2 linked regions of the Homo sapiens genome follow. The protein of the gene in region 1 purifies or fractionates together with the protein of each later gene. This does not show direct contact. Each region holds a gene or a part of one and is shown in the gene's direction. Other genes may lie near its edges.

The links.
Region 2: the proteins of WDR86 (region 1) and IPCEF1 purify together in Homo sapiens (affinity purification with mass spectrometry; 2 studies listed by BioGRID and IntAct, with this or other methods). This does not show direct contact.

The regions. Positions count from the first base shown.
Region 1 is NC_000007.14:151,398,593-151,408,140, reverse strand, and holds part of WDR86 (WD repeat-containing protein 86), read left to right. Parts: intron 1-7,899; coding exon 7,900-8,041; intron 8,042-9,548.
Region 2 is NC_000006.12:154,156,575-154,166,122, reverse strand, and holds part of IPCEF1 (interactor protein for cytohesin exchange factors 1), read left to right. Parts: intron 1-6,082; coding exon 6,083-6,295; 3' UTR 6,296-9,548. UniProt on the Homo sapiens protein: Enhances the promotion of guanine-nucleotide exchange by PSCD2 on ARF6 in a concentration-dependent manner.

The DNA.
Region 1 (9,548 bases):
GACTTTTGGATTACCGGTTACTTGGGAGTTGGTGTGGATAATGGAGAGGTGGCCACAAACTAACACACATCCCCCCCAAACAGCCACACACACTTATAGGCATTCAACCAGGAATGGAAAATATGAGGTCTTTTAGAAATGTTAAGTCCAGTTGGTATTGCTCCCAAACATAAGACTGTCTTGGGGGTAGAGGGGTGGGTGGTGTTTCAGAAATGCAGATCCCCAGGCCTGGGCTCCAGTGATGCAGTCCTCCATGAATAGGGCTGTAGAACTGGCATTTCTTCTTGTTGTTGTTTTTTGAGATGGAGTTTCGCTCTTGTTGCCCAGGCTGGAGTGCAGTGGCACGATCTTGGCTCACTGCAACCTCCGCCTCCCGGGTTCAAGCGATTCTCCTGCCTTGGCCTCCTGAATAGCTGGGATTACAGGTGCTCGCCACCACGCCCAGCTAATTTTTTTGTATTTTTATTAGACGTGGGGCTTCATCATGTTGGCCAGGCTGGTCTTGAACTCCCGACCTCAGGTGATCCACCCGCCTTGGCCTCCCGAAGTGCTGAGATTACAAGTGTGAGCCACTGCACCCGGCCTAGAATTGGCATTTCTAACAAGCTTTTGGGTGGGTCTTATGCACAGCTGGCCCCGGGAGCCCCTGGGCTGGGGACGGGTTGTGGGAGCCCAGCTTAGCCCACAATTAGGTGGGGTTTCTCCCCAGTGAGGCCCCAGGCTTTGCCAGGCTGCCGGTAGCCTGGTGGGCACTTGGCTTTGCCCCCACGGCAGCTCTGGAGCCTCACCAAGCCTCCAGGGCCCACCCTCCTGCCCAGCTCTGTGTCTGGCACCTGTGCCTCCTTCCTTCACACCCACTTTGGTGACCCTCACGGCTGCTTGTCCCCTTGAGGTACTGACACTCACTTCCCAGGGAGGGTGCCCAACCTTCTGCCCTAATTGAGGGCAGGGCTATCCCCGCTCAAGCAGGACACTGGAATGAAAGAACTGTGGCCCATTTTGCTAGGATTGTTTTTGCTGTTATATGGGTTGGTATTTTCAGGAATTTTCAAGGACGGGGACAGAGGTCATCTTTCTTTATCCTGAGATTCTACTGATACGCTCAACTTGCAAAAGAGTCATTGTGAGTGTGTGACAGTCCTTTTGTGTGGATCCCCAAAGAAAGCAAGGTGTTGCCAGTTCCTTTCTCCTGCAGGATTTTTTTTTTCTATCAGTGAAATATTATTAAAATGTCTTAACATTTGTTTAGTGCCCTATATTTTATAAATAACACATCTTTGTGCTTTTTTATTGTGTAATGAATCCTCACAACTCTGAGGTGGGTGGGATTGACACCAGTTCACAGAGGAGAGTGGGGAGGTGCAGACTCATGAGCAGCATACACGGCATTCTTGTTGTTTTCTAGATACCATCGATAATGGGGTGGGTGCTGTCGCCAACATCCCTCGAGGCGTGGTGCGGTGGCAGGACTTGTCCAGGGTCCCGCAGCTGGTCCATGGCAGAGAGGGTTTCTGAAGACTGTACGGTGCTTCTCTTACCACTGTGGGGGAAGTTGTGTCCAGACCACATGGCTGGTCTGTGGTGGCCCCATCCCTAGAAGCATCCTAACTCTAAATCTAGATCTCTTTCCACTTTGGTTCCGTCCTGGCCCTTGCACAGCTCTGGGCCCACAAGAGCCTGTGGTTGGCCGGTCCTGGATTTCTCGAGCAGAGTGGCTGGGGCTGGCGACTCCTACGTACGCTTTTCCTCTAGAGACCTCTGGCTCTGTTCATGGCAGCAGGGGCAATCAGGGACCGCAGGCTTTCCTGGGTGTCTCGCAGAGCTTAGGAAAGTTTGGGCCAAAGGGTGAGAGGGAGAGGAAGAGTGAAGGCCGTTCCCTGTGGCGTGCGGGGTTGGTGGGTGAGGTGCTGCTCCCGGAGGCCCCAGGGAGAGTGGGCTGCAGAACCGGCGTGTGGGGAGCCCCTCCCTGTGGGTGCATTCACTTGTTCATACACGGAATTGCCTTTCAAATGCGGTTGGTGAGCTCACAGTGAAAAAGGCTTCATTGCAATTACTCTGCAAAGAGAAGAATTACTTGCCACTTGCTTATCCCTGACCTCCTCTTTTTCAGGTTTATTCATTGAATATCTCCTTATTTGGGGGCACTTTATTGGTTCAATGAGATGAGTGACATTTTCCAAAATGGTAGTACCTATCCTATCCTGTTCCTGTTGAGTAGGGGACTCAGCCTGAAGGTGGCAGCCCACTGTGGCTGTCCCACACGCTTCCTCGTCTTCTAACATGAGGGGGCGGGGATTGTTGTTAATTTCCTGGGTACAACCCCACATTCCCATTTGCTGGGAGCCGGTGGCATAGGAGACTCCCTGTGAAGCCTGGCGGGAGAGCAGTGGCCCAGAAGACTGGGCTGAAGGAGGCCTGCGGCACGCTGGTGACAAGAGCCACAGCAGCCTCACACAGCTTGGGGGCAACTGACCGCTCCCACCGGAGAAGTCCAGAAAGCCAAGCTGCGTAGGTCTTGGTTCAAAGTGGGGGCTTGCAGATTTGCTACAAGTCTCTGGTGGCCACGTCAGTGTCCATTCCAGCCACGCTGTTGGTGCTTCTGGGCCCAGATGTCACCTGCCTCAGGGTCCCAGCACCCTCGAAACTGGGTTCTACCAGGAGAGTTTAATAAAGGGACACTGCAAAATGCAGGTGGAGCATAAGGGAACCACAGTGGCCGTGGCTCGGAACAGCAAGGCTGTCACCTCTTCTGGGCCTGAGTCGGGGACGCAGCCACTGCATCCTGGAAACAGCTGAGAGGGCTTCCTTCCAGGTTGGATGGCCACAGCCAGCCTGAGGGAGCCCTGCAGGGTCGGAGCTGGGGGAGGGGAACATATCCTGACCTAGAGTCTCCAGCTGCGGCTCCCACTTGTCGGAACCCACGGTGGGCTCCCTCTTTTCTAACCCAATGGGAGTCTTAGATAAGAGTGAGCCCACTGTGAAGTCCATGCAGATGGCGGTGGCAGGGTGGAAAAGAGGGGGATTGGGGAGCAGAGGAAGGCTCAGTCCTGGACAGCAGGCTCAGTGGGGCCTCCCCCACAGGTGAAAATAACCCTTGTGCTACAAGGGCTGGAGCAAACCAGGTCAGCAGTGCCATCCCTGCCCCGTGTGGCTTCCAGGGTGGCTGTCCAGTCCGTTGTCTAAAGCTGGGACACAGGGAAGGGAGACACGGCTTCCACGCAAGTCAGGGGCACCAGGCCCACTGCAGCCCACCGCCGGCAGAGACCCGCCACCAGCAGGTCCGAAGCTCTGAGCTGCTTTTCCTGCATTGGGGTGGTGGGGGAGGAAGCAGTTTGACTTGAAACTTCCAGCGAGTCCCCAGGGTGTGCAGGCGCTACCTTGGCAGAAAACCGTCAGCCTCAGCATGTTCTTTGAACATAATAACTGCATCTTATCTGCATTCTTCATCCCTTCAGAAATATTTATTTTTAGTTTGGCTTTTTTGCTTATTCTGCACAATCACTGCAGCCCCTGGAGGTGTGATGAGCCCACCCCCATGCCTTCCCTCTTCTGTCCTAGGGTCCTCGGGGTTGGGGTGGGGGCCTCAGCTCCAGGGGTGGCAGGCCTGGTTCCGCCTCCTCCCCGCTAGGGTGACCCCGCAGGCCTGGGTCAGTGGAGGCCTGTTTTGTGTTCTGTGGAACATAGGGGTTGGGGTTGGGGACATGCTCTGTTGGCCTGGCTCTGACCCGTGACTCACTTGGGCGTGTGTTCAGATGTGGGTGAGTGCTTAGAAACCCAGGGGAAGAGGCCTGTCCACAGCAGAACCCTGAACGCTGTGGGCCTCTGTGGGCTCAGTGCCAGGCTCTGCCACAGGGCAGAGGGCAGAGGGCATCAGGGCAGCCTGGCCCAGTTCAGAAATGGAGTTTTTTTTTTAAACCTTCCTTTCATCATTGCCTGTTTTCTTCAATATTTGTATGCATTTACATTTTTATCAGTTTGCCATCATCTGCGTATATGTCCTTTATTCCTTACACACATCATAAAGTGGTCCCTCATTTCAGGTCTTCAGCATCCCTGGCTTCAGGCTTCAGTTCCACCAGGTAGAGATGCCACAGCTCACTAGCCGCCATTGGCTTTTAAGTGCTTTTCTTGGCTTAACATATGACTCACTGCTGCGCTTCACCTTCCTGGGGCTGAGATGCGTCGGGAGCAGCTGGGCTTGGTATCGGCCCCACAGGATCCTTAGGCAGGTGCCTGGCACCTGAATGCCCACAGCACACCTTGATTACCTTTCCATCTTGGGTGTCTCCAGCCGCAATCTCTCTGCTGAGCCCTCCTGGCGGCAGCAGGGAGGGTGGGACGGATCTGTTCCCAGGGAAAGTTTATTGACAATCTTAACATATTTTATAAACCCTCTGGGGTTGGCAAAAATCTAGCCTGCGTTTTGACAAACACATTGCCCTCAATGTTTAAGCCGACATGTATTTTAAGGGAAACAGAATCTGCAGTTTCTTCAAATGTTGACTTAATCCGTACATTGTTTTCTTAGCGGCCTGGTATATGCCCTCCAGGGAGGCTGGAAAACTTTTTTGTTAAATTATGTTTCTTAGAACTCAGGAAGTTGCGTTTTTCCAAGAGTAACTGAACTTAAACTCAGGGGGTCGGGGGAAGGGGTGGATGTGAATTGGCTTGAAACTACCCAGGAAATTCTAAATCCCTGTCTACCCAATACCAGCTGTCTAAATGAAATTTTAAAATTCTATCAAAATTCTTAATGTAATAAGTATGTCCCCCAAATGTGTGGATGTTTGAATTTGTCCATTGTCTCATCTGTAAAATGGCTCTTAGTTCTAACAGTCTTTTGATTTGACTTCCTGGTCCCCGAGTTCCTCAAATCCAGTGGGCCTTCCTGCCCAACACGTTCTGCACCTGTGGGTTCGTCTAACCACAGATGAAAAACATCCAGGAAAAAAAATTCCACAAGGCTCCAAAAAGCAAAATTTGGCTTCCCTGCTCACCAAGTCCTACACTGAATCCACACAAGTGAAGCGATGTGTAGCCATCGCAGTGGGTGTCATAAGTAACCTAGAGATGAACTGAAGTATGCAGGAGGATTGCATAGGTTATGGGCAAATACTACACCACAGGGACCTGAGCGTTGTGGAGTTTGGTATCTGCAGGGGATCCTGGAACTAATCCCTGATGGGTATTGGGGGCAACTGTATATATTGGGGGACAACTGTATACACACCATCTTTACCTGAAGGGCAGGCCCTACTAAGATCAGAGACCCTGAGGGCCCCCAGGGCTGCTAAGCAATGCCTGAGGCATAAACATTGATCTGGCAGCCAGGGTGATAGTCAAGCTATCTAACTGCACCCATGAGATAGAGTCCCAACCAGCTGGTGGGGTAGCTCAGGTGCTGAGACCCCAGACACCCTGGCATGGCCCTCCACTCTTGGCCCTCCATTCTGGCCACATCCCGGCCTCATCAGTCATCTCTACCGATCACTCAGACTCTGGCCTGGAGGTGCCCCATGGAGCCAGTCCCTGCACGCCTGCTTTCCTAGCCGCTGTTCTCCCTACGGGCACCGAGTCACCCTCTTCCTGGTCTCCAGTGCTCAGGCTTCTCTCCCGAGCCCCAGCCAGCCGCTGCCAGTGGGGTGCCGAGCCCTGCTGACCACATGCTGCCCTTGACTGTCTTCCCTTCTGGGCCTGGAGCTCCCTTGGAGGGCAAGGCTGTGTTTCATTGTCTCTGTGTCTATGTTAGTGTCCTGGGGCTGCTGTGACAAAGGAGGATGCTTGGTGCCTGGAAACAAGTGAAGTTGATTCTTCACAGTGCTGGAACCCAGAGGGCTGAAATGAGCGTCCCTGGGATGAAAGCAGGGTGTCAGCAGGGCCACATCTAAACCCTGCAGGGAACGGTCGGTTCCTGGCCTCTTCCAGCCCTAGTGGCTGCTGGCATTCCTGCGCTCGTGGCCACATCCATCTCTGCCTTCACCTTCACGGCCTCCTCTTCCGAGTATATCACATCTCCCTGGCCTCTCTCTTGTAAGGACATTTGTGGAGATATATATATATATATATATATTTTTTTTTTTTTTTTTTTTTTTTGAGGCAGAGTTTTGCTCTGTCACCCAGGCTGGAGTGCAGTGGTGCAACCTCAGCTCACTGCAGCCTCCGCCTTCCGGGTTCAAGCAGTTCTCTGCCTCAGCCTCCCGAGTAGCTGGGATTACAGGCGCCCACCACCACGCCCGGCTAATTTTTTGTATTTTTAGTAGAGACGGGGTTTCACCATCTTAGCCAGGCTGATCTTGAACTCCTGACCTTGTGATCCACCCGCCTCGGCCTCCCAAAGTGCTGGAATTACAGGCGTGAGCCACCGCGCCTGGCCACTTGCGGTTGTATTTAGGACCCCCCGGATAATCTAGGATAATCTCCCCAGTCAAAGTCTTTACCTCGTCACATCCACAAAGACCCCTTTCCAAGTAAGGTCACATTGACAGGTTCCAGGGATTAGGACCTGCTGTCTTGGGGCCGTCATTCTGCCTACCACAGTATCTCTCCCCAGTGTAAGGAAAATAGCGAACATGTGCCATTCCCTCTGCGGCTGCCTCTGTCCTCAGTCTGCGCTACATCCCGTGAGGCAGGCATTGTCCCCATCCCAGGTGAGGAAATGTGGAATGCAAAAGCTGAAAGGTTTGAAAAAGACTAAAAGGAGATGATAAAGAAATGAGGAGGGAAGGAGAGGAGGGAGGAAGGCAAGAGTGGAAGCTGAGGAAACAGAGGGTTTAGGGTGCAGGCGAGTGCCCCTGGATTGCTCCTGCTGTTGATGGCTGCTGTGAAACCTCAGTTCTTGTCTTCTTAGTTTAACAGAATTGAAACAGGAGACACACAGCAAAGGAGATGCAGCATAGAGCAATGTATTGCACAGGAGGAAGAATACCCTGAAAGTTAGGTGCAGAATAGGCAGGACGCCCCAAGAGGGGAGTCAGGGTAGGCTGCCTGTGAGGATGAGAGAGCAAAGACCGGCTGGAGGGAGGATCCCTTTTTAGGAGTCTTACCTGATTATTCATGAGCAGGTGGGCAAGGGGGTTGCTGGGAAGCATGTTCTGGGTGCTCATGCACAGTGGCTGTGCATCCCTGTTCATACGTCACATGTCTCACTGGCATCTTAAATCTCCATCCAGGGGTGTGTTTTTTACTATTGTAATGAGCAAAGGGTCACTGTGAGGACCGGTAAAAATCAAAGTGCACGTGCTCTCTACAGGGGAAAGTCCCTACTGAAGATAGCTTTGCTTGAATGAGCTTGCCTGCAGTGCGAATGCTGGGGCTTATTGTGTTGACGGCGCAGTCGCCATGGTTGCTGCGTCCTGAGGACATGGTTACTTCCCTGACTATCTGTCGTGCCTCACTGGTACCCCGTGCTTTCTGAGAATCACTCAGACTGAAGTCATTCTTTAAGAAGGATGAGTTGAGGGCTGGGCGCAGTGGCTCACGCCTGTAATTCCAGCACTTTGGGAGGCCAAGGCAGGCAGATCACTTGAGGTCAGGAGTTCGAGACCAGCCTGACTAACATGGCGAAACCCCATCTCTACTAAAAATACAAAGAATTAGCCAGGTATAGTGGTATGCGCCTGTAATCTCAGCTACTCAGGAGGCTGAGGCAGGAGAATCACTTGAACCCGGGAGGCAGAGGTTGCAGTGAGCCCAGATCGCGCCACTGTACTCCAGCCTTGTGACAGAGTGAGACTCTGTCTCAAAAAAACAAAACAAAACAAAACTAATGCTAATTGACTCCAGCTTGTCTCAAACACTCCCTACATCCTGCTTTCTTCCCTTTTCAAACATTGTTCCCAGAAGAAAAGCAGGAGCTGGCATCCCCAGTACGCTCACATCTCCCCTGTCCCTCATCTGCAGGACATGAAAGCTATGTGACCTTCTGCCAGCTGGAGGATGAGGCTGCCTTCACATGCAGCGCCGACTGCACCATCAGGAGGTGGGACGTGCTGACCGGGCAGTGTCTGCAGGTGTACCGAGGACACACGTCCATCGTGAACAGGTCAGCCTGGCTGGGGGCTTGGGCTGAGTCTCACCATACATAGGCTTCTGGTGGGGCTGAGGGGTCAGAGATATGGGCCCCTGCACGTGAGGGCCCTTGGCTCTCTGGGGAAGCAAAAACGTGGACAGCTGGGAGGTGGTCAGTAGCACCCAGCGACGTGGACCCAGGACAGGCAGCGAGCTCAGTGCCTGCGGCTGCATGTGGGGCAGGGAGGCACTGCCCATCCACTGAACAGAGCCTGATGCTTCCCCCTTGGGGGCACAGTGGCTCCCCGCTGGGTGCAGGGAAAAGCACCAGAGCCTACAGCTCGTAGGGATGGGGACAAATTCCATAGGAAATGGCTTAATTGAGACCCGATGGTGGACCAAAGGTTTGCAGGAGGAGGAGTGTGGGGGATTGTTCCGAAGACGGAGTTGAGGATATTTTTAAGCCTCTCCTTTCTTTGTAGCTGTGGAAAATATCCCAGCCCCTCCTTCTCAAGAAGGTTGGAATTGTTCCTTTCTCAATGAATTTGGGTCTGAGCTGAGCAATGGAAATTCCTTTGCTGATCAGATCAGTTGGACACTGTTGGAGTCACTTGTGGTGGTCACCTCGGACTCCCGAGGGAGGCCTCCTGGCGCCCCTGGGCCTGGCAGCTGCACTGGAGGAGGGGCGCTGCCTGGAGGGTGACCCAAGTAAAGACAGGGCTGGCGCAGGCTGGCACGAGGGGGTCCTGAAGGTGGGGCTGGGGGCGCAGACCAGACAGGATGAACCCCACCAGAGGAATGCTGTTGGTTGAGCTCTGACAGGAACCCCCAGTCAGTGGACCAGCGCATGGGGGGACAGGAAAGGCAGTGAGACCCATCAGCCCAGCTCGCTGGAGTCGCAGGTGGCTGCAGCCAGGAATAATAATCGATAGTCGATGGACGGGGAGCTGGGTGACACCCTGAGGAGGAGGCTGAAGGGATGCGGGGACTTTTTAGAGTGAATGGGGGGTATATGCAGACACAAGGTAGGGTGGCCGTCTGGCCCCGGCCTTCCTCAGCTGAAGCAGGTGAGGCCCTGAGACCTGCCCAGGCAGCCCACAAGGTGGTAAAGAAGGGGCTAGAGTGAGAACTCAGGGCTCACAGCTCCACTGGCCTCTTCCCAGCACTCTGACTTCCCTGAGAAAGAAGTTTGCCATGAAAGAAGAGAGTAGGGCTGGGGGAGCGCCCTCCTGTGAGTCAGGCAGAGGCTGCAATGGGCTCAGCGGGGAGAAGGCCTGCCTGCAGTGACCAGTGGGCCCTCAGCTGCCAAACCCACAACTGTCAGATGCTTCTCAAAAGCAAAACTGGAACATTAAAGGTAGAAATCATGCTCGGCCAGATTTACTCTCACATGTGCACACACAACTTACACATACACATGTGCGCACACACACAACATACATATACACCATACACACAACTTACACATATACACGTGCATACACAACATACATACACACTCATACACAAACTTACACATACACACGTGCGCACACATACAT
Region 2 (9,548 bases), on another chromosome or scaffold:
ATTATTTCAAAGTGTCTGTGGCCAGGAATCTGGGTGTGGCTTGCTCAAATGCCTCTGCCCCCAGGTCTCTCACAAGGCTGTGATCAAGCTGTCAGCTGGGGCTGCATTCATTCCTCCATGGAGAGGGATCAGTTTCTAAACTCCTGCATGTTAATTATTGGCAGGATTCAGGTCCTTTCAGGTTGCTGGACTGAGGGTCTCAGTTGCCCTCTGGCTGTTGGCCAGAGGCTCCCCTCAGTTCCTTGCCACATGGGCTTCTCCACAGGGCAGGTCACAACTTGGAAACTGGCTTCTTTCAGAGCAAGCAACACAGTGAGAGTGAGTGAGTGAGATGGGTTATAACCCAGTGGCAGCAATGACATCACATTACTTTTGCAGTATTCTATTCAGTAGAAGCAAGTCATTGGGTCATCTCATTTTCAGGGAGGAGATTACACAAGGCCTTGAATACCAGGAAGCAGAGAAGATTGGGGGCCCGCTCAGGGCTGCCTGCCCCACCCAGCTAGGGAACTGCTCTTTCTGGACATTTGTGAGAAGGAGCCCTTTCCATAGATCCCTCGTGCAGTGCTTGGGGCTGATGAAATAGAACAGGACCCATGTCATGCAGTCCTATTAATCTCAGGAGGTAGGAGGACATGCTGATGTGGAAATTGGTCTTGCTGAAGAAGCTGAACAAAAGCAAAGTGCATCAACCTATTCAAAGGAGAGAGAGAACTTGGTACATGTGTGCATGTTCATGTTGGAAGGGTATAATAATTATTTCTAATTGTTTTTAAAATTCAAAGCAGTCAAGAGAGTGGTTGTCTTTGAGGAAGAGGAGAGGATGGGACTGAGAGGGGATGTGAATGGAGCTTCTGAGTGCTGGGTGCGGGTCCTTCTGTGACCCTGGTAGTAGTGGTATGGAAGTGTTTATTTTGTGATAATTCTTTAAGCACAATTTTTCTATTTGTGCACTTTTCTCTGAGTATGATATATTGCACAGAGAATATATCATACACAGAGGAAATGTTTATGTTTTAAAAGCTCCAAAGTAGGAGTGTAGACAAGCAAAGACAACAGAGTTTCATGCAGAAACAAGGAAACTGTTTTAACAATAATGTTTATATTTGCCGCAGGTGCATTCCGTAAATAAGAAAAATCCCTGCACTGGGATAGTACTGGAATGAATGCACTTCAGGGAAATTCTTCTAGGAAGTTGAGCAAACTTCCAAGTTGAACTTGAGCAAAAGTTGATCGTATTATGTTGTACACTAAATACAGATATTTAGGAATTTCTAACAGCTCATCATTCACTGACTTTTGGCTAAGTCTGCTTTTATTTTAAAATAAGTTATTAATGGAATGATTAATGGGTCCAACTGAAACTCTCTCTGAGTTACTCTGACCTATGTCACAAGAGCGGTGAACCCTTTCTTCCCGTAGCTACTCTGGTGGAACACATTTCCAATGCTTAGGTCTTGAGTCGAGCCACACACTGACTATTTGGAGTAAAAACTGAAAGTACAGCATTCTCTCTTTCATGGTATTTTTGGAATCCCTGCCAAACCTTGCTTGCCTGCCAGAAAGCAGAGCGGATGTTGTGAAAGTAGTTCAAAGCCCTCCAAAAGCCTCATGCGCCATCCAGGAGAAGCTGGGCTGCTGGATGAGGCCCAGCCCCAGGATGCCTGGTGTAGGAAGGAGCTTGGAAGGTTCTGTTGTTTCATTAATTTCCTTCTTCTGTATTATTGTCTACATTTTTTTCTTTCATCCATAGAAGAACTAACACAGATTTGAGCCAAATGGTAAAAAATTTGAACTACTTAGAGCCAAAAGCCATATGAGAAGTGTCAGCTTAATGCCCAAAGTTGAAGAGACCCTGTTCTAAAAATTTTATTAGCTATAAAGAGGGGTTAATTCATGTATGCAAAGTCAGTTTCCCCAATTTTTATTAATTTTCAAAGATCTTATTTAATTTTTTAATATGAAAAATTAGGATCTTCCTTTGAAGTAGATGTCTAAATTTCTTTAGAACAAAATAAAACTCTTTAAATAACTTTACATTAATAGCAGTATGGTGATATCAGAGGAAGAAAGCTTTTGTTGTTGTTGTTGTTTTGGAAAAGTTGTTTTGGAAGCATAGATATTGAAAACTCAGAAAGAAGAAATATGCTCTTTTGGCCCTGCCTAACTTTCTATAAACAATCCCTCTGCTTTCCTACTGCACTGTTTTTTCTCCATTTTGGAAGGAAGGATTCCTATCTTTATCCATCTATATGTCTATCTTCTATCTATCTATCTATCTATTAATATCTATCTATCCAGCTATTGATCTATGAATCTATGTCTAGTTTTTTTGTTTAATGGAAAGGATTTCCTCAGACTCCAAATAGGGTTCAGAATGCAAAAGAGAATAAAAAGCAAATTGGTAATTCATTTATTCATTTATTTCTTATTTTATATATTCATTTTTTCAACAAGTATTCAACGAATGTCTACATGTGTAAACAGTCTACATGTGCAGTCATTCTTTCAGGCACTTGGGGCTATAGCACTGGGCATGTCAGATAAAAAGGCCTGCCTTCCGGAAGCTTATGTTTTAGTAGGAGAATAAACAAACATAATTGACTATTAAATGTATAATATGATAAGTGATGATAGATTTGATAAAGAATAGAAAAGGGGATAGAACATGTTGAGGAATTGATATTTAATTAGGAAGGACATGAAAGGCCTCTTTGAAAGACATAATTTGTGTAAAATCTGAAAAAGGAAAGGGAATGAGGCTTGAGGTTCTCTGAGGCCGAATATTTCAGGCAAAAGGAACAAAAACACAAACACCTTGGGGCGGGAGTGTGCCTAGGGCATTTAAGGAAGAGCAAGGAGGTCAAGGTAGCTGTAATGTAGTGGGGATGGAGCATGGGGAGTGCAGCAGTGGGCTGGAGGGGCAGCAGGGACTCGAGCCATTGAGGATCTCATTGCCATTGCAAACACCAGCTTCTGCTCGGAGTAAGACAGTGACCCTCTGGAAGGTTCTGAACAGAAGGATGGCATGCTTTGTGTCATGTCTGAAGGTAGAACCATCAGCCTTTGCTGGTGGATTGGGTGTGGTAGAAGGAGTCAAGAATGACTCCAGTGTTTGCTCTGAGCAACTGGAAAGACGGAGTTACCATTAAGTGCTTTGTGGAAGACTACGGTAGGAACCGGGTTTGGTGTGCATTGGAAGTTGGTGGGGTGGGGATGTAGAGAATAAGAGGAACTTATCTTTAGATATGTTATTTTTGAGATGCCTCTTAGGGGTTGATGTGGAACTGCTGAAGAGGAAGTTTAGACAAATGATGATGGAGTCCAGGGAAGAAGTAAGGAGAGATATAAACTTGGGACCCTCAGCACATAGGAGAGTGGGAGAGATTTCTTGTGATTACCAACAGCATGAACATAGATAGAGCAGAGAACAGGATACAAGCTGGGGCTTTAGAACACTCCAGTGAGAAGAGGTGGCGTGACAAGGAGGAATCAGCAACTAAGGTGGGAGTAAGTAGCAATTGTGGTACAAGAAAAATCAGGAGAATGTATCATAGGAGCACAACAATGAAACTGTTCAAGAAGGAGGAGTAGTCAATTGTTTTAGGTGCTGCTGATAAATAAGTTGAAGATGGATCATTGGTTTAACATTGATTTAATGGTTTATTGGATTTAACAACATGGAGGTCACTGATGGTCTTCACAAGAGCAGTTTTGGTGAATGGTGGGGGCCAAACCCTGATGGGACTGAATCTATGCAGAATGGGCCACTGGAGACAGGAAAAAGTAGAGCATTAGCTGGACAGGGATTTGGGGGCAGAGAGGAATTTTAACATGCAAGAAATAACAGCAAACATGTGTACCAGTGAGACTGCTGGAGGGGATCTGGAAAGTTGGTGAGTCAGAGGAGAGAACAGAATTGCTGGGATGAATTTCTTGAGTAGGAGAGCGGGGGCCATTGTGCCCAAGTGGAGGGATTGGCCTTTACTAGGAGCACAGATGCTCCATCTCTGTGAACAGGGCAGAAGGCAGCATAGATTTGCATCCATGTAGTTCGTGGGCAATAGGAACTTGGGAGAAGTGCTCTTCTGATGGCTTCCATTTCCTCAACAAAGAGATAGCAAGGCCATCAGCTGCGAGTGAGGATGAGAGAGGGGGTTTGAGATGAGAAGAGTTTTGAAATAGTCATTTGGGAGACTGCCAGAAAAAGGATGTGAAAATGTGATGACTGGAGAGTAGTGAAAATCCACTTACTGGCAGTGGTTGTGAAGTTTTAGTTTCACACATGCTGTCCTGGGGATAGTCAAAAAGAGTAGTTCAATCACATGCATGAATTGAATGTCTACATGGCACTTGGCATTGCGTTAGGTGCAGGGAATACAGGGATGAAGGAAATGTTTCTTGTCATCTTCTTTAAGCTTTAGAAGAGGGGCCATGACTTACCCGTAAATACCTAAATGTACCTCGGTAAGTTCTCAGAGGGCATCATTGGAAGGCATGAGAACATAAAAACTTAAAAGCTTATCAGTCCAATTTTGGGAGTGCAGGGAAGGTTTCCTGGACAATGTGATGCCTCAAGTATAGATTTACGGGTTTTGAAAAATTGGGTAGGCCAGGTGCAGTGGCTCACGCCTGTAATCCCAGCACTTTGGGAGGCTGAGGTGGGTGTATCACTTGAGGTTTAAGGAGTTTGAGACCAGCTTGGTCAACATGGCGAAACCCCATCTCTACTAAAAATAGAAAAATTAGCCAGGCATGGTGGTGCATGCCTGTAATCCCAGCTACTTGGGAGGTTGATGCAGGAGAATCGCTTGAACCTGGGAGGCAGAGCTTGCAGTGAGCTGAGATTGGGCCACTGCACTCCAGCCTGGGCAACAGAGTGACTCTGTCTCAAAAAAAAAAAAAAATGAAAAGAAAAGAAAAAAATTGGGTAAAGAAAGACTGGAAAGTGTTCTGTGTAAAAGAAACTCTAGAAATTAGAGTTTATGAGGTGAAGAAAGGCAAGGAAGATTCTTCATGTGGCACAACAACACGGAGGTGTGAGCTAGTGTTGTGTGGGTGAGAAAATGCATGCCAGTACATTAGACTGGGAAGTCAAAAGGAAGCAGAGTATCAACAAATGGTGCCAGTGCAGGTGAGGAGCCTTGGGTGTAAGGGGATCCATGAGGGGGACTCGGCATTTACATGCATCCCTGCTCTGCTAAGTGGAGGTGGAGTTGAAGTGGGCATTGGAGGCAGTGGTCTCGCTCAGGAGGCTGTGGCAGCAGATCAAACGTGATATATTGAACTGGATATCCAACCTTAGGATTATGGTCATGGGATGGAGAAAACAGGCATAGATTTGAGATACAATTGTCAGGGCTGAATATTTGTTTTTAATATGGAGGATGAACATCTTATTTATACTCCATTCCTTGTCTATAGAAAACTCTAACCTGAGCTAGACATTTCAGAAATGTGTGCCATTGGTTACAGAGGAGGCAGAATGGAATAGCACCAATAGGTTGTTTATTAGCATTATTGGAATACATACTGTTTTGATGGAAGGTTAGTAGCCTCTTCTTTGACTGAAAAGATAATCTGTGTATTTATTCTGTATTAAATAAATGTGATTTATTAAAAATAAAGATAATTTAATAAAATCTTAAAAGACATATTTTATGTTGCCATATGTCCTAGGTAAAGTGTTACGTTCCAATTTTACTTAGTGAAGTTTGGATTGTCAATAAAATGCTAATACCTACAATGGTAAGTTTTAGGAGGCATGATTCCCACACCAAGGTAGAATTGTTACTGTGGTGTGGAATAATGGATTGATCAGGGAAAGGCAACATAGAAGATCTTTGCTATATGTCTAGCTCTTCCACTAACTCTTGGGTAGGATACTTCACTTCTTTGCGGCTAGCGTATGCAAACAAATGTCGTATTTCTTAAGCTTAATGCTGGAATTAGAACATTAACGTGCAAAAATGCTTTGGTAATTTTATGTATATGTGTACTTGTAAAAGAGTTGGTAAAGATGGTTTATGTAAATTAAGACACTCTCAACATACCCCCTTCCCCTTTTTTTCTACTCACACAGTGTAAAGAACATGATCTGGCCATGATTAACCAGTTGCTGGATGACCCGAAGCTGACAGCCAGGAAATACAGAGAGTGGAAAGTCATGAACACCCTGCTGATCCAGGACATCTATCAGCAGCAGCGGGCTTCGCCTGCCCCTGATGACACTGATGACACCCCCCAGGAACTCAAGAAATCACCTTCTTCTCCCTCTGTTGAAAATTCCATTTGAGACAAAGTCAGGGTTTTCTCCTCTTATATTTTATCACAAGCAACTCTTCAAGATGTTGCAAAAGCTTACATTTTTCCTTAAAAGGAAAACTGAAACCCAGTCCTTCAAGCATCAGCTTCCCATCTAAAGATGCACGTTAGATGAAGATAATCACCGAATACACCAGGGCTCCTCATTTCAGTCGTAACGCATCCATTGAGATTGGAATGATTGAGTTCAGTTGAAAGGCGTTTTTTGTGTTCCTACTGGGAGCTCACGGTGATGTGGGGCTCTAGGGGGGATGTGAGAAATGTCTCTTCTGTTCATTGCTCTCCAGAGAATGCTATGGACAAGAATCAAATTTTACCAGGAGTAATTGCCCATGGAAACATTCTGTTTTTCAAAAGAAGAATGTACATATTCCACTTGACTGGGAAGCTGTGTGGCCCAAATCACTGTTTGAGTGGAGGAATGTTTTCTAGAGCAGTGACTGGAAGGACAAACGTGGTGTTGCAGAACAAAAATTCCTTGCCTTTGGTATGGAATGGTGGTGCCTTTTCCATGTGATGAGAAATGCTTCATAGACAGTGGCATGTGGGAGAGCTGAAGGAGGAGGCGTGTTCCATATTCCACTCATTCAAAGGACAGCTTGGTGTTTTCACACTTTATGCAGGTTAGGGGATCTGATTAATGTTTCCTTTCCTTACAACAGCTAGAGAAAACATCTCATCACAATTGGAGACCTCTACTTCCTTTGAGCTTTCCTACTCAATGGTAGGAGATAGGAATATGTTCCGCAAAGAATGTCTACTGCTCTTGTCCTTGGCTGTGATCCCTATACATAGTGTGAATTTATATCCAGGTTTCCCAGGATCAATATTGACAAGACGACTTTGGCATCTGAATTGTTTTAATATCTTTACTCAAAAAAACAAAAAAACAAAAACCCATGGAAGCAACAAAAGAGTTAAACATGAGGGATTTATTTTTGTATGTTTATATGTCACTTGTGTGCTATGTGAATAGCTATGTTTGTTATTTAAATATATTTATAGAAGTTCAAATTACTAGTGTTTAAAAGATGATATACTATTATATATTGTGCTTAGTATATATTTGATGAGTCTATACTTTTTGCTTGAGAAAAATAGAAATACTATTGATTCACTGGTGTTATGATGTTGCACTGTGTCTGAGGAATGCTCAGGAAATCTTGTGGGAAAAAAATGGGGCATGCATTCATAATTTTTCATTTTCTTCCCCACCCCAACCCCCATGAGCTCTTAAATTTAGATTTCTATCTCTTGTAAGTCACTCTTTTAACCAGCAAAGGACTTTCATCTTAGATTATCCTTTCTATTAAATAAACTTTAAGCTTTGTGCCATTTATGCCTGCAAACCTTAGACCAAAGGCAACACAACTAATGTCATCTTTTCATTAAAGACTAATAGAAATTTAGAAATCATTGTGTTAAAGAGAGCTATAGAGAAACAATATGAAAGTCTTCCCTTACTAATCACCATGAATATTTCTCACCATAGGAATAACCACAACCCACCAAGTACCCATGTTGGCCCTGCCTACCCGTAACAAATTGTTCACACAACCTATTTTGTTTTATAGCTTCAAAGTGTGGCTTGACATTCAAATGGAAGGAACCACCTGAATTATATCTGCAAACAAAATGGAAATAGTTGTTGAATAGTTCCCCAAGCTTTACTAAGAAGCCTTAATACTCTGTAAACAAACAAACAAACAAAAAACAACCTTAGCATTAAGAAATAAAAACAAAAAACAAGAAGCAAGTTGTACTGCTAGAAACTTCTCTAAGATAAGAGGCCAGGCCAGTCAGTTTGGCCCAGCAAACATGTGGGTACTTCTCCACCTAGGGAAGCCACTGAAGATGAGTTTGACCTGTGGTGACCTGACAGAGAGAACATTCAGATCCTCAGATTGCACCCTGATGCCCTGGTTTAGGAAAGCAGTGCTTTAACCTTTTGCCCCTGGAAATTACTGATTCTTTCTGTGATTAGCAGATACCAGAAGGGAAATTATTTAGGATTGGCAATGTAAAGAGTATTGAAGGAACAACAAATAACAATAGCAGAAATAACAGTGTGACATAAAGTGCCCTTCCACCTATTTTTCTTTGGTTTGCAACACCAGCCTGTAGACTTCCAGTTTTTCTTAAATTGAAGAGCTCCAGACACTTTTGAGCAGGGTTTGTGAATAGCTTTGAATGCTTTCCTTTGGCTTTTCGTGAAGACATATTTCCCCAGCCTTTCAACTGTAAACTCCTTTAGTACCATTGAAACTTAAGGCAAAAAAGATCCCTGGGATTACTTAGCCAAGGCTTAAATTTATTTTTCAAAGTCAAGAACATTAGCCTAGAAGTTTTTGCTTTGCTAGTTAAAGCTTACTTTGCAGAGCTTCCCAAAGTGAAAGGGAAACTGAACTTCACAATTTTGCACCTGGCTTTCTGGAGCCCCATTGCCTGCTCATTCGTGTTTTTCCCCCTGTAAATTATTTTGCTTTTGACCAGGTTGTGCTAGAAAGTAGGGCTGCTTCTGTGAGTTCTCAGCCTAGGCTGTGGCCACTAAGACGTGGGTGGGGGGATAGACAGGAGTGAGAGGGAGAGTGGGTGACACTTTCCGTGACACTTAATGTAGGAAGACATGGGCTTCTCTCTCTTGGCCTCAAGCCACTTTTCTGGTCCAAAGAATATTGGGAAAACTGGATTACTTTCAGTATATTTCTTGAGACCGGGTCATCTCTGAAATGCATTTGGGGTAGTTTCCTGGGGTCCAAGGGCCAATTCCTATACCCAGTCCTGCAGTGTCTGTGAGCTGTGGAATGAGAGAGAAAACCATGGCTGCTCAGGAAGGAAGTGGAGAATCTCTCAGCACACGTAGATCCAAATCTGTGGCACCTGCTAAAGATTAGGATTTGGAGAGGACTCCTCTTTGGGGTTGTGAAGAGGACCTTTTCCCTCTGTTGTTAGCCTGTAGATCCAGAACGGAGCCTGATGTGATGCCTTCACTGGTTGATATATTGCAAATAGACACTCTGAGCCCTGCATTGCAAGGGCGTCTTTTGCTTTAAAGAATTCTTAGTTTTGCCACAACAGCTCAAATCTCAGAATAGGATCAAAGGCCTAGAAAGACTCCTAAAGTATAGGATTACAAAGACTCCAGGAAGCGTAAGAAAGAGATTGTGTTTGGAGTCAGATTTCAATGTGAAACCCATGCCTTACATTTACACAGCACTTTGTAG